Linked DNA regions of Homo sapiens. The protein of the gene in region 1 purifies or fractionates together with the protein of each later gene. This does not show direct contact. Each region holds a gene or a part of one and is shown in the gene's direction. Other genes may lie near its edges.

Region 1 (3,500 bases):
AACATCTATATTTTTACATTATGCCAATTCATGGGGAGAAAAACGGAATGACATACTGACATATTTACTTGATTCATGGCATTGAAAACAGAGAAAAAACTTCCTGTCTTTTCGATACCTGAGGTTTAAAGAAAATTAATAAATAATTCATGATATTAATAAGGTTATATATGAAAGATAAGAAACCTCATCAGAAAGAGCTTGATTTTTTAACACTTCTTTTTTCTACTAATTTGGGGTTTGGTTTGTTCTTGCTCTTACAAATCCTTTAAGTTCATCATTAGGTTATTTATCTGAAGTCTTTTTACCTTTTTTTAAAGGCATTTATTACTATAAACTTCCTTCTTTGTACTGCTTTTCTGCATTCCACAGATTTTAGTTTATTGTGCTTCCATTTTCATTTGTTTCAAGAAATTTTTAAAATTTTCTTAATTTCAACATTGACTCTTTGGTCGTTAAGGAGCACATTATTTAATTTTCATGTTTGTGCAGTTTCTGAGGTTTCTCAAGTTATTGACTTCTAGTTTCATCCCATTGTGGTCAGAAAAGATACTTGATTAGATTTCTACTTTTTTTAATTTATTGAGACTTGTTTTTTGGCCTACAATGTGGTCTGTTCTGGAGAATGCTCCATGTACTGATAAAAATAATGAGTATTCTGCAGCAGTGCTTCTGTACGTGTCAGTTGGATATATTTGGTAAAGTGTGCAGTATAACTCCAATATTCCTTGTTGATTTCCTGTTTAGATTATCTGTCCATTACTCAGGGTGAGGAGTTAAAGTCCCCCAATATTATTGCATTGCAGTCTATCTCTCCCTTTAGATCAATGAATGTTTGCTTTATATACTTGGGAGATCTGGTGTTGGGTCCATAGATTTTTAGAACTGTCATATCCTCTTGCTGAATTGACCTCTTTAGCATTATATAGTAACCTTTGTCTCTTTTTAAAGTAGTCTTTTAAAGTTTTGTAATCTATTTTATCTGATATAAGTATAGCTGCTCCGGCTTTTTTGGTTTCTATTTGCATGGAATATCTTTGTTCATCCCCTTCACTTTCATTCTCTGTGTGTCTTTATAGGTGAAGCAGATTTCCTGTAGGCTGCATACAGTTAGGGTTTTCTCTTTACCAAGTCAGCCACTTTAACTTTATGCTTTTTTTTTTTTTTTTTTTTTGAGAGAGTCTTGCTTTATTGCCCAGGCTGGAGTGGAGTGGCATGATCTCAGATCACTGCAGCCTCCAACTCCTGGATTCAAGCGACTCTCCTGCCTCAGCCTCCTGAGTAGCCAGGATCACAGGCATACACCACCACACCAAGCTAAGTTTTGTATTTTTAGTAGAAATGTGGTTTCGTTATGTTGGACAGGCTAGTCTTGAGCTCCTGACCTCAAATGATCTGCCTGCCTTGGCCTCCCAAAATTCTGGGATTACAGGCGTGAGCCACTGCACCCGGCCTGCACTTTATGTCTTTTAATTGGAGAGTTGAGTTCATTTAAATTCCATGTTATTGTTAAGTAAGGATTTTCTGGGGCTGTTTTGTTGCTTGTTTTATGGTTGTTTTTAAATTTCTCTCTTTTTTCTTTTCTTACTGTCATTCTTTGGGGTTATATAATTTTCTCTGGTGGTATATATTAATTAGTTGCTTTTTATTTTTAATGACTCTACTATAGGTTTTGCATTGTGATTACTATGAGGCTTATAAAAAATCTTATAGATATAACAAGTTATTTTAAAGAGATAACAACTTATATCACAAAGAATAGCAACAAAGGAAAAAAACACTTTTACTCCACCCTCACACATTTTTAATTTAGTTTTCCCAATTCACATATTTTTATTGCTTACCTCTTAACTGGTTTCTGCAGTTATCATTGTTCTTGATAGATTTATCTTCCAGTCTTCATTACTAGGGATATGAGAAGATTGTGCACCACAATTACAGTATTAGAGTATTCTGGGTTTGTGCATACACTTAATTTTATCAGTGTATTTTAGATATTCAGCTGTTTTCTGTTCGTGTGTTTTTTTCTTTTTGGTTGAAGAACTCCCTTTAGCATTTCTTATAAGATATGTCTGGTGGTGGTGAATTCTCTCAGTTTTTGTTTGTCTGGGAAACATTGTCTCTTCTTCATATTTGAAGGTCAGCTTTGCAGGATATGGTATTCTTAGATGGCAGGGTTTTTTTTTTTTTTCAGCACTTAAAAAATGTCATCACTTTTCTCTTGGTCTGTATGGTTTCCACTGAGACGTCTATCATCAGATAAATTGGAGCTCCTTTAAATATTATTTGCTTCTCTTCTCTTGCTGATTTTAGGATCCTCTCTTTTTCCTTGACCTTTGAGAGTTTGATTATTCTATGCCTAGGGGTAGTCTTGTTGGGGTCGGAATCTGTTTGGTGTTCTCTGACCTTTATCTGCCTGAATCTTTATCTCTTTCTCAAGCTTTGTAATACTTTCTGTTATTATTTCTTTGAATAAGCTTTCTACCTCTTGCTCTGGTTTGACTCTCTCTTAAACACCAATAATTCTTAGATATGGTCTTTTGCAGTAATTTTCTACAAGATGTTGGCATTCTTCCTTCCTTTTTATTCTTTTTTTCTCCTTTCCTTGTGTATTTTCAAAAGCCCATCCTCATGCTCACCGATTATTTCTTCTTCTTGATCCATTCTCTTTTGAGAGCCGCTAATAAAATTTTCGGTTCAGCAAATGTATTTTTCAGTTCCAATATCACTTTTTGATTTTTAAAAATTATTTCAATCCCTTTGTTAAATTCCTCTGATATATTTCTGAATTGTTTTTTGTGTTATTTTAGAGACCAGTGAGTTTTCTTAAAACTACTATTTTGAATTCTTGGTACAAGTGCTCACATATTGCCATTTCATTAAGATCTGTCTCTGATTCCGACTTTGTCCATTTAGGGGTATCGCAGTTCCCTGTTTGCTGTTGTTTCTTATGGATATGCATCTATGTCTTTGTGTTGAAGGATTTTATATGGCTTGTTTTGGTTTACATTGAATATGTTTGTTTAAATATTCCTTGTAATTTACCTGTCGATTTTTTTGGGGGTGGGGGGCGGCAGCTAGGTTTCGGCCTCCTTGTTATGACTACATGGTGCCTTAACCCAGGTTTGCCTTGGTTCTAGTAAACAATTAGAGTGCCACTCATACCAAATGAGGGTGCTTCCAAAGGGGATATCCCAGTAGTGTGGGAAGACTGACGAGGTGTTCCAGCCCAGGGGACCTGTGCAACAAACCTCCTATACCATGATGCTGCTCGACAGCCACTCTAAGTTGACATCTCCTTTGGCCAAGTAACAGAGCACAGTTTCTGGTATTGGGGATGGTAGTCCTGCCTCCCCACTTTGTCTCTGCCTGTCCTCGTTCAGGCACCCCGATGCTTCCCAAGTGTTAAGGCAGGGGCAAGTTTCCTGCCAGGAAACTCAAGCTGGTGGGGAAGCTGGTTATCCATCTTGATCTCACTTTTTCCAGTATAGAAATGATGT
Region 2 (3,500 bases), on another chromosome or scaffold:
AAGCTGAGGCAAGAGAATCGCTTGAACCCAGGAGGCAGAGGTTGCAGTGAGCTGAGATCGTGTCACTGAACTCTAGCCTGGGCAACAGAGCAACAATAAATTTTAAAAAATAAAAATAGGCCGGGCGCGGTAGCTCACGCCTGTAATCCCAGCACTTTGGGAGGCCGAGGCGGGCGGATCATGAGGTCAAGAGATCGAGACCATCCTGGCCAACATGGTGAAACCCCATCTCTACTAAAAATACAAAAAATTAGCCGGGCATGGTGGCAGGCGCCTGTAATCCCAGCTACTCTGGAGGCTGAGGCAGGAGAATCGCTTGAACCCAGGAGACGGAGGTTGCAGTGAGCCGAGATTTGTGCCATTGCACTCCAGCCTGGACAAAAAGAGCAAAACTCCGTCTCAAAAAAATAAATAAATAAATAAAATAAAATAAAAATAAGTGTTAAGAAAATAGTTCATGAAAATGTACCATTTCTTACCATACCTGAACTCCGGCATGGGCAGTGGGGAGGGAGGGCTGTGAGGTAGGTGGATAAAGAGCGCCATCTTCATGGTGTGTGAAACAGAGTGAGCCAGGTGTCTCAGCCTCCCACAAGTGATGTAAAGTCATTGATTCTTGCAGTACAGTTGCAGAACTCGCTCTCCAGAATCAGTTGACACTTTGCTCCTGCTGTATTCTCTACTTTGTGATGGAAAGAGACAAATAGGAGTTGGCAGCTCTTGTTCTCAAAGGGCCTGCGATTCCAGAAGGACCCAACTCATGCCATCTGCCCTCATTCTCCTGACATTTAGGTGCTATTAATTCTTTAAAATTCTACTCATTGGTAAAGGAGCAAGGCCTTCTCAAGAAACATACTGTTTGACATTTTTTCTTTTAGCACTGTTGTGGTTTTTCATTTTCTTTGCCAGATCCCATGAGCTGCGTTCCAAGGTGGTTTCCCTGCAGCTGCTCCTCTCTGTGTTGCAAAATGCTGGCCCCGTATTCAGGACTCACGAGATGTTCATCAATGCAATCAAGCAATATCTCTGTGTGGCCTTGTCCAAAAACGGCGTCTCTTCAGTGCCTGATGTCTTTGAGCTCTCTCTTGCCATTTTTCTTACTCTTCTTTCAAACTTTAAAATGCACTTGAAAATGCAGATAGAGGTACGGATTCCAAAGTTTTTTCATTTCATTATTTACTATTATTATTAGTCATTAATTATAATACTCAATATTGAGAATGCTGCTAATATTACACTAAGCATTAGGAAAATGGTTCATGAAAATGTTTCATATCTTACCATCCTGGAACTCAGAAGTGGGCAGGGGCAGGGAGGGTAAATGGCATATTCATCGGCTGGCACCCCAGTAAATCAGAACTTTTTGAATGAGTAAGAGAATATCTTTTTATAAAAAGTTACTGCCCCCAGCCTGGGCGCCATGGCTCACGCCTGTAATCCCAGCACTTTGGGAAGCTGAGGCGGGCGGATCATGAGGTCAGGAGATCGAGACCATCCTGGCTAACATGGTGAAACCCCGTCTCTACTAAAAATACAAAAAATTAGCCAGGCGTGGTGGCAGGCGCCTGTAGTCCCAGCTACTCGGGAGGCTGAGGCAGGAGAATGGCATGAACCCGGGAGGCGGAGCTTGCAGTGAGCCAAGATTGCACCACTGCACTCCAGCCTGGGCAACAGGGCGAGACTCCATCTCAAAAAAAAAAAGTTACTGCCCCCGGATCTTATGTGCCTTTCATTTTAACCAATATGGTCTGTCTGCTGGGCTCAGCCCCCTAAACATATCTGTTTGGTCTGTAAATTGTTTGAAATCATTTAGATTAGTCGCCAAATTGAGAAATCCTATTTTACATGAAAATCCAGATTTCTGGTTTCTCTCCAAAAAGTCACAGTATGGGTCCTGCATTTCCACTTGGCAGCTCCCCAGTGGGCCCCACCCTGCCAGCCGTCCCCACCAAGGCCAGGGTCCCGTTGCTGCCCAGCCAGGTGGGCACTCCACTCTTCTTCTGCCCAGGGTGCTTTACTTACTGCACGACTGGGTTGGCTGCTGAAGACTTTGGAGGTTTTGAGCCCTGGTTGAAACTGTTAATTAGTGTCCTCCTTTGTCTTTATGTCATATAGGTCTTTTTCAAAGAGATTTTCCTGAACATTTTAGAAACATCAACAAGTTCTTTTGAGCACAGGTGGATGGTCATTCAGACTCTGACGAGGATCTGTGCAGGTATTTCCACCTGGGGACACTCATCCACTGGACTTCTGATGCTTTAATTTGCCACAGCTCAGATTAAGACTTCTAACCCCTCCTTTTAGAGTTTTAAAGGATTGGCAATAAAAGGCTAATTCTAACCTAGTCCTGCCCCACCTCTCCTTTTTTAGAGGATGACCAACTTAGGCTGGTTTGCCAAGGACTTCCTGGTTTTAGCACTAAAAGTCTCATGTCCCAGAAACCCCCTAATCTCGTCAAACTGGGACACTTGGTTACGTTACCTACAAGCTGAGTACTGTTAATCACAGGACCTAAGATACTGGTGCTGCCAATTTTTGATTGGGTGCTACGGTAAATGTGGATTTACCTTACACTATACAATTGTGTGGCCTCAAAGTAAGCATCCTGCTTGTCTGGCATCAAATGTAATTTTGTAAGAGTGACACAACTTTAAGAGGTGGGTCAGGCAATTGTTAACCCCTTCCTTGATGAGAAAATTGAGGCTTGGATGGGTGGAATGAACTGCCTGAGATTTCAATTTGCTCAGAAGCAGGCCTAAAAACAACCTCCTGTCTTCCAGCTTCCTAGTACTTCCAACATGTGTTTCCTGAGTGAGATGTGGCCACCGGAGTCTGTAGTTCACTGGGGAAATTTGTTGGCAAACATCTTGTTTGATAAGAAAACCTAACTGCTATTTGATCAGAATTTCTGATACTTGTATGTTATTTTCCAAGATGCCCAGTGTGTTGTGGATATTTATGTCAACTACGACTGTGATTTAAATGCTGCTAACATTTTTGAGCGCCTTGTAAATGATTTATCCAAAATTGCTCAGGGAAGAAGTGGACATGAGCTGGGAATGACACCTCTGCAGGTAAAAACACTGTGGACACTCAATTATATTAAAGTTTATTCATTCCAATAAACATTTATTGAGTGCCACCACATGCCAGGCACTGTCCTTGATACAGCAGTGAACAAAACAGGAATGCATATTCACACACTTCCTGCCATCATGAAACGACATTAAAGAAGTCAGTTCAGATGATCATAGGGGCTGCAGAGAAAAATAAAGCAGGGACGGCAGAGAGGAAGTGCTGAAGGTGGGGTGCTGTAATTCTTAATGGGGCCATTAGGGTAGTATCCCTTAGAAGGTGACCTTTGAGCTGAGACCCATAGGAAGCAAATTCATTCTCAGTCACCCTTCCAAAGATAGCGTGGAAAACAGGATCCCAGTCTGCAATAGGGGCAAAGGAGATTGGCTAGTAGCAGAATACCTCATTAGAGCACCTACAAAGAA
Region 3 (3,500 bases), on another chromosome or scaffold:
ATCCATTCACTTACTGAAGGGCATCTTAGTTGCTTCCAGTATTTGGCAATTATGAATAAGGCTGCTACATAAACATCTGTGTGCAGGTTTTTTTGTGGAGTGCCCCAGTTTTTCATCTTGATGGATTATAGTATTATTTTTTATTCTCCATGAAAGTTTTCTTTTTTTGTAGCAGTTAGGTACATTTTATTGTTTTTATTTTTAAAAGTTGTTTCTAAAAGCAACACTATATCATCCTGTTAAATACCATCATTTTACATTGTCTGATTGAAGAGGTAAGGTGTTGTCGGCTGGGCACGGAGGCTCACGTCTGTAATCCCAGCACTTTGAGAGGCTGAGGCAGGTGGATCACTTGAGGTCAGGAGTTTGAGACCAGTCTGGCCAATGTGGCGAAACCCTGTCTCTACTAAAAGTACAAAAAATAGCCGGGTATGGTGGCATGTGCCTGTAGTCCCAGCTACTTGGGAGGCTGAGGTGGGAGAGCTTGAACCCGGGAGTTGGAGGTTGCAGTGAGCCAAGATCACGCCACTGCACTCCAGTCTGGGTGACAGAGTGAGACTCTGTCTCAAAACAAAAAAAAAAAAAAAAAAAAGAAAGAAAAGATAAAGTGTTAATATTTTTAACATATCCATTTCTTTTATTTATTTATTTATTTTTTTTTTTGTGAGACAGGGTCTTGCTTTGTTGCCCAGGCTGGTCTCAAACTCCTGGGTTCAAGTGCACCTTCCCACCTTGGACTTCCAAAATGCTAGGATTATATGTATGAGCTACTATGTCTGGCCATATTCATTTCTAGATGTTCAAATCATTTGCAAATAATTTTCCTTTAAAACTTTTTAATCTACGAAGTATGCGAGTTTAGAAAACCAGGATATTGCAATGTGCATGTTTTAATAACCCAAAATATTAGTAAATGAATTTATCTTTGAAAATAAGCAATTCCTTTTTTGTTGTTGATTGGGTATTTAATGAAATTAAATAGTTATCTTTCTTAGGTGTGATCATGGAATGGTGGTTATTTTTTTCTGTTTCATTTTTTGTTTTTTTAAATTATGGTCAAAAGCACATAAAATTTGCTATCTTAACCATTTTTAAGCATATAGTATAGTAGTATTAACTATTTTATGCACTTTGTGCAGCAACAAAGATCTGTGCAGCAGATCTCTAGAACTTCTTCATCCTGCAAAGTCGAAACTCTACCCATTGAACGACTCCTCATTTCCTCCTGCCCCTGGCCCTTGGTGACCACATTCTGCTTTCTGTTTCCATTAGACTGCTTTATACTTCATATAAGTGGAATCACACAGCATTTGTCTTTTTGTGACTGCCTTATTTCACTTAACATAATGTCACCCATGTAGATTATGACAGGATTTCCTTCTTTTTTAAAGGTGAATAGTATTCCATTGTATGTATATTCCACATTTCCTTTATCCATTCATTAGTCGATGAACATTTAGGTTGCCTCTACCTCTTGGCTATTGTGAATTGTACTACAATGAACATGGGAGTGCAAATATCTCTTTGAGATCTTGCTTTCAATTTTTTTGTATATCCAGAAGTGGGATTGTTGGATCACATGGTAATTCTATTTTTAATTTTTTTAGCAACCTTCATACTGTTTTCCAAAGTGGCTTTACCCTTTTACATTCCCACCAACAATACACAAGGGTTTCAATTTTTCCACATCCCCGTCTGCACTTCTTTTCTTTTTTTTTTTTTAAGAGTGACCATTCTCACGGGCGTGAGCTGATACCTTGTTTTAGTTTTTATTCACTTTCCTGATGATTAGTGGTGTTGAACATCTTTTCATATGCTTTTTGGCCATTTGTATATCTTCTTTGGAGAAAGTTCCTTCTTGATTTGTTGTTTCAGATTGATATTTATTCAACAGGGTTATGTGTTATTGTGAGCAGAGTTCCCCTTTCTTAAGAACAGGGTAAACATGTTTGAAGATATTCTTCCAAGAGAGATTTTAATGTATTAACAAGCTTCTGAATTAGTACATCCATTTCAGATGTAGCATAGTATCAGAGTCATAGACTATTATTAGATCTTAGAGCTAGTGCCACAAGTTTTACTCCCTGTCCCCCACTGCTTGAAAATTGGGACTCCTTATTTATTTTAAATCTAGAATGTTGATCAGGCTGCCATCCTATGTACCTTTCATTGGATCCTGTATTTTTTTTTAAAAAAAAGCCATAAAGGATTTTTTTTAGATTACGGGGAAATTTGAAAATGGATTACATATTGGATAGTAGTATTGTATCAATGTTAAATTGTGCTGTATGGGATAGTGTTCTGGTTTTCAGAAAATATAAACTGTAGTGTTTTTTTCAGGCAAAGTCTTGCTTTGTTACCCAGGCTGGAGTGCAGTGGCGTCATCATGGCTCAATGGTTCACTGCAACCTAGCCTTCCTGGCTCAAGCGATCTCCCACCTCAGCCTCCCAAATAGCTGGGCCCACAGGCCTGTGCCACCACACCTGGCTAGTTTTTGTATTTTTTGTAGAGACCAGGTTTCACCATGTTGCCCAGGCTGGTCTCGAACTCCTGGGCTCAAGCAGTCGGCCCACCTTGGCCTCCCAAAGTCCTGGCATTACAGGCGTGAGCCACTATGCCCAGCCAAAACTAAAGCCTTTAGGGTAAAAAGTATCATAATGTCTGTAATTTACTTACAAATGGTTCAGGAAAAAAATGTTTGTATATACATATACAGAAAGCAGGGTTTCTTAATCTCAGCATTATTGATATTTTGGGCTGGATAATTGTGTGGGACTTGGTGTTGCAGGATGTTTAGCAGCATCCATGGGCTCTACCCGTTAGATATCAGTAGCATTCCCCCAGTAGTGACTATCAGATATGTCTCCAGACATTTGTGTGTGTTTTTTTTTTTTTTAAAGAGTGGCCATTCTCATGGGTGTGAGTTGGTATTTCATTGTAGTTTTAATTTCATTTTCCTGATGATAAGTTGTCCTCTGGGGGGCAAAATCATCTACAGTTTAGAATGCCTGATACAGAGAAGGAGAGGGTGGGGGGCGGGGGAGTATTTATGTATATTTAGGAAGAGTGAAAAGGCAAATAAATTAGAACAATGTTAGCAGTTGATAAATATAGGTAGGTATAGGGTATAAGAGTATTCATTGTATTAGTCTTTTAAATTTTCTGTAGGTTTAAACATTTTCAAAATTAGTTTGGGGAAAGTAAATTAGACTGGATTTTATAGTAATTGAGTATGACTGGAAATGTATGAACTCTGTTCAAAGTTACATCTCTTAATAGAAAAATGAGATTTGACAGAGCATATTTGAAGTCAGTGATTAAATAAAGAGTATTAGTTTTCCAGTGCTCCTGTAACGAATTACCACAAATTTAGTGGCTTAAAACAACGCCCATTTGTTTGTACCCTGATCTCAGAGTTTTGTTAACTTAGAAGTCAGGGCACAGTGTGACTCAGCTGTTTCTCTGCTCCAAGTTTCACAAGGTTGAAATCAGTGTCACC
Region 4 (3,500 bases), on another chromosome or scaffold:
AGGAATATGCCAGAAAAGCTCTTGATTTTCTCTGGGAAAAAAGACAGCGAAGTAGTAATTTAGTGGGCGTGACTATAAATATTCATACTGGAGATTGGGTACGAAAAGGTATGTAAGTTAGGCTTTTTAAATCAAGCCTTTGCATCCTCAAAATGGTTGGGAAATAAAGAATTTTCATTTGTTAAAATAATCTTTGGGATACTATAAAGCATAGGTTCTCACAAGATTGCTGGAATTTTAATTAATTTAGCCAGATTTTCTTTTTTGATGCCAAATGTGACACACTTCTTCTACATGATTTAGTATTCTATTTCTTAATGGATATAGCATTATAGGTATAGGGTGTAGATGAAACGCTATAATTTATTTGAAAACTAGAGAACCAGATTTCTGCAGCCATCTCACGTCAAGGTGTGGTTTAGTAAGAATATGGGTTTAATAAATTCTTTTTTTCTCCTACCTCCAGAAATATAGTAGCTAAGAGCATAGACTCTGGGGTCATGTTGTTGGATTCAAGCTATGTGATCTTGGGAAACTTATTTAACCTCTGTGTGCCTCTCTATTCCATATCTGTAAAGTGGGCATATTAATAGTAATTAGTTGTTCTGTATGAGGATTAAATGAGTTAACCAAAGTAAAGTGCTTAGAACAGTGCCGGGCATGTACTACACTTACTATGAAGTAAGTGCCCAGTAACGAGATGTTAGTCCTTTTGATTAATAATTTTACTTCTGGGAATCTAGTCTGAGGAATAATACAAAACATAGAAAATTATTTGTTCCCAAGATGTTCCCATGCAATTATTTATAAATAGCAGAAAATTGGGAAACAGTCTAACCATCAGTAAAAAAAGCTAAGAAAATTATTTTACATCAGCGTTGGAATATTGTTATTAAAATAAATCAGGAGCATGGGAAGGAACATGTAACAATGTTATATGAACAAACAGGATATTGAATTGTACAAAGAACTGTGATTTTATCTTTATAAAACACCCTGATAAGCATAGATGAATGGAAATAAATTAGAATATTCTTAATGAAAGCATCTTTTTTATACATTTTCTCTATTTCTAAAAAGCTTATCTTGTTTATATGTAAAATAAATGGTAACTGCCTATATTTAAATAAATAAAAATTATAAAATTATTAATTCAAACATATTAAAATTATTACCTTTATTCAGTATTGTATAAAATTTTTCTGTGTCATCTAAATGACAGAAAAGAACTTTTGACTCTTCACAGTCAGTTATTTCAGTAATTCAGGGTGATACTGAGGAAGCTAAGAAATGACTAGATTTACCAGAACATTTGAAACTCAAGACAATTTCTTCCAAGTTCCTAAAAGCAAAATATTGAATGGCCACTGATGAAAAGTCATCTTGTGTATTCATTCACTGTTTTCTAGTATTTCACTGCTTATAACTGTCTGGTCTCATCTTGGTTATAGTTTAAAAATCAAATATTTTCCTACATCTGTGAATTAAATAGTACAGTGTGGTTACCATATCATACTTCAGCTGTTAAATTAAATCCATTATGTCATAACACTAAAAAGACTCATTTAAAAATGAAGATTTAAAATAACATAATATGTTGATTTAAATGTACCACTAGAAAAATGTTGTGTCTTACAATAGAAATGAAATGTATATAAATATGGGTAAAAAGACGAGTCACTAGTTTGAGATGAGAACTATTATTTTCATGGTAACGTACCAGCATGTATGTGCTTGTATAGCATACACATAAACAGAGAAGGCTTAATGCATTTATAATGCAAATACAAATGCATTAAATAGAAGTTTGATAGTGTATTATAAACCTAAGAGGAAAAATCCAGACTTGTATTTTTGATATTTTGTGCATCAACATATTGCTACAAACATGAAAACTGTGAAATTTTTAAAATCATTTCCTTGCAGTCATAGCATTGTACCATCTTCATTTTTGTCTAGAGTTGGTTCAGTTCTAAGTGGTCTAGACTCCACCTGCCTATCATTTTTTTTTTACTGGTTAAGACAGTAAAATAGGTGTTTTTTTGAATCTATAGGTTTCATTTTTGTGTTAGATAACATTTCTTCTTTTTAAGAGTAGATATTATTATTGTTCTTTAATTTTTCTTGACTTTGGTTCTTTTTTCCTTTTTAGGAAAAAGCAAAACAAGAGACTTCATCTTTAGATTTCCTCAAGATTTAAGTGAATTTACTATTCATTTATACATACCAATTTCTTAAAGAACACAAGATGCTTATTTTCCACCTAGTGAAACTAAGAGCTAATTAAACTATGAACTAGTTAGCAAATTATTTATTTTAAATATAATTATCTGTTCCAGGGCAAATCTAAACTGGTGTAGTCATATATATGCACAATGTTAATTTAATGCTAATCTAAGGAGTGCTATTTTTTTAAAAAAATTTAACGGTTTTAAAAAAATTTAATGAAAAATCACATTTGTGTTTCCATAGATAGTGGAGTTGGAGCAGGGATTGATTCATATTATGAATATCTGTTGAAAGCCTATGTCTTGCTTGGAGATGACAGTTTTCTGGAAAGATTTAACACAGTAAGTTGATACAATTTTATATTTTATAATCAACTTCATTTGAGTCCAGATTTTTATAGAAACTCCATTACCTGAATGACATTGTAAAAATAATTTTTAAAATGTGTAGTGGTTTTGTGTCAGTATTTCCTGATGATGTTGAACAGGGACAGCGTAAAAAGTGATATACATTCCAAAAAATCAGTTGATAAAGTAGTTTTATTTTCACCTTTTATCAGAAACTTTGCAGATCTGCCAATAAGAGATGTAATAGATTTGAGTTTTACCTAATCTTGTTTGTACAAGGATAAGAATTATTGAAATATGTTACTAGTTAGCTTTTTCCTTTGTATTTCAATTCTTTTTGAAATCTTGGAAGTTTGGCTTAGTCTTTGATTACACCAAGGATACAGGGCTTTGAAGACCTGGAGAAACTAGTGAGTATTCATTTCAAAAGCAAGTCTTAAGACTGGTTCAGAACCACAAGCATGTTTTTTTGGGAAAAGTGGGAGGATTATTGAACCCAATTGAATCACCTTTTTAACTGAAGCAAACTGAAATGAATATAGCAAACTCATCAGTTATATCACTATATTCTTTTTAAACTAATCTACCATTTCCTTGCTCACCTATCAGTTCATCCATGTTGTATGTATGAGACAGTATGACATGGTGATTAAAAGTATGGAGGAGAATGGCGTGAACCCGGGAGGCGGAGCTTGCAGTGAGTCGAGATCGCGCCACTGCACTCCAGCCTGGGCGACAGAGCGAAACTCCGTCTCAAAAAAAAAAAAAAAAAAGTATGGGAGATGTACTGGTTTAAATTCTGATTGTACCACCTACGGGTTTTGTGACTTTGGGCAAGTAACTAATATTATTTGCCTCTGTTTCTCATCTACAGAATGGGAGTACTAGTACTATTTATAGGGTTATTGGGAGGATTGAGTTTAT

Evidence for each region. Proteins that work in one complex are often made in the same cells at the same time.
Region 2: the proteins of CLEC2B (region 1) and ARFGEF2 purify together in Homo sapiens (affinity purification with mass spectrometry; one large-scale study listed by BioGRID and IntAct). This does not show direct contact.
Region 3: the proteins of CLEC2B (region 1) and DIPK1A purify together in Homo sapiens (affinity purification with mass spectrometry; one large-scale study listed by BioGRID and IntAct). This does not show direct contact.
Region 4: the proteins of CLEC2B (region 1) and EDEM3 purify together in Homo sapiens (affinity purification with mass spectrometry; one large-scale study listed by BioGRID and IntAct). This does not show direct contact.

The regions. Positions count from the first base shown.
Region 1 is NC_000012.12:9,862,855-9,866,354, reverse strand, and holds part of CLEC2B (C-type lectin domain family 2 member B), read left to right. Parts: intron 1-3,500. UniProt on the Homo sapiens protein: Membrane-bound protein expressed on myeloid cells which acts as a ligand to stimulate the activating receptor NKp80/KLRF1, expressed on the surface of natural killer (NK) cells.
Region 2 is NC_000020.11:48,970,211-48,973,710, forward strand, and holds part of ARFGEF2 (brefeldin A-inhibited guanine nucleotide-exchange protein 2), read left to right. Parts: intron 1-909; coding exon 910-1,144; intron 1,145-2,115; coding exon 2,116-2,215; intron 2,216-2,934; coding exon 2,935-3,074; intron 3,075-3,500. UniProt on the Homo sapiens protein: Promotes guanine-nucleotide exchange on ARF1 and ARF3 and to a lower extent on ARF5 and ARF6. Promotes the activation of ARF1/ARF5/ARF6 through replacement of GDP with GTP. Involved in the regulation of Golgi vesicular transport.
Region 3 is NC_000001.11:92,951,463-92,954,962, reverse strand, and holds part of DIPK1A (divergent protein kinase domain 1A), read left to right. Parts: intron 1-3,500.
Region 4 is NC_000001.11:184,720,359-184,723,858, reverse strand, and holds part of EDEM3 (ER degradation-enhancing alpha-mannosidase-like protein 3 isoform 2 precursor), read left to right. Parts: intron 1-2; coding exon 3-108; intron 109-2,472; coding exon 2,473-2,570; intron 2,571-3,500. UniProt on the Homo sapiens protein: Involved in endoplasmic reticulum-associated degradation (ERAD). Accelerates the glycoprotein ERAD by proteasomes, by catalyzing mannose trimming from Man8GlcNAc2 to Man7GlcNAc2 in the N-glycans.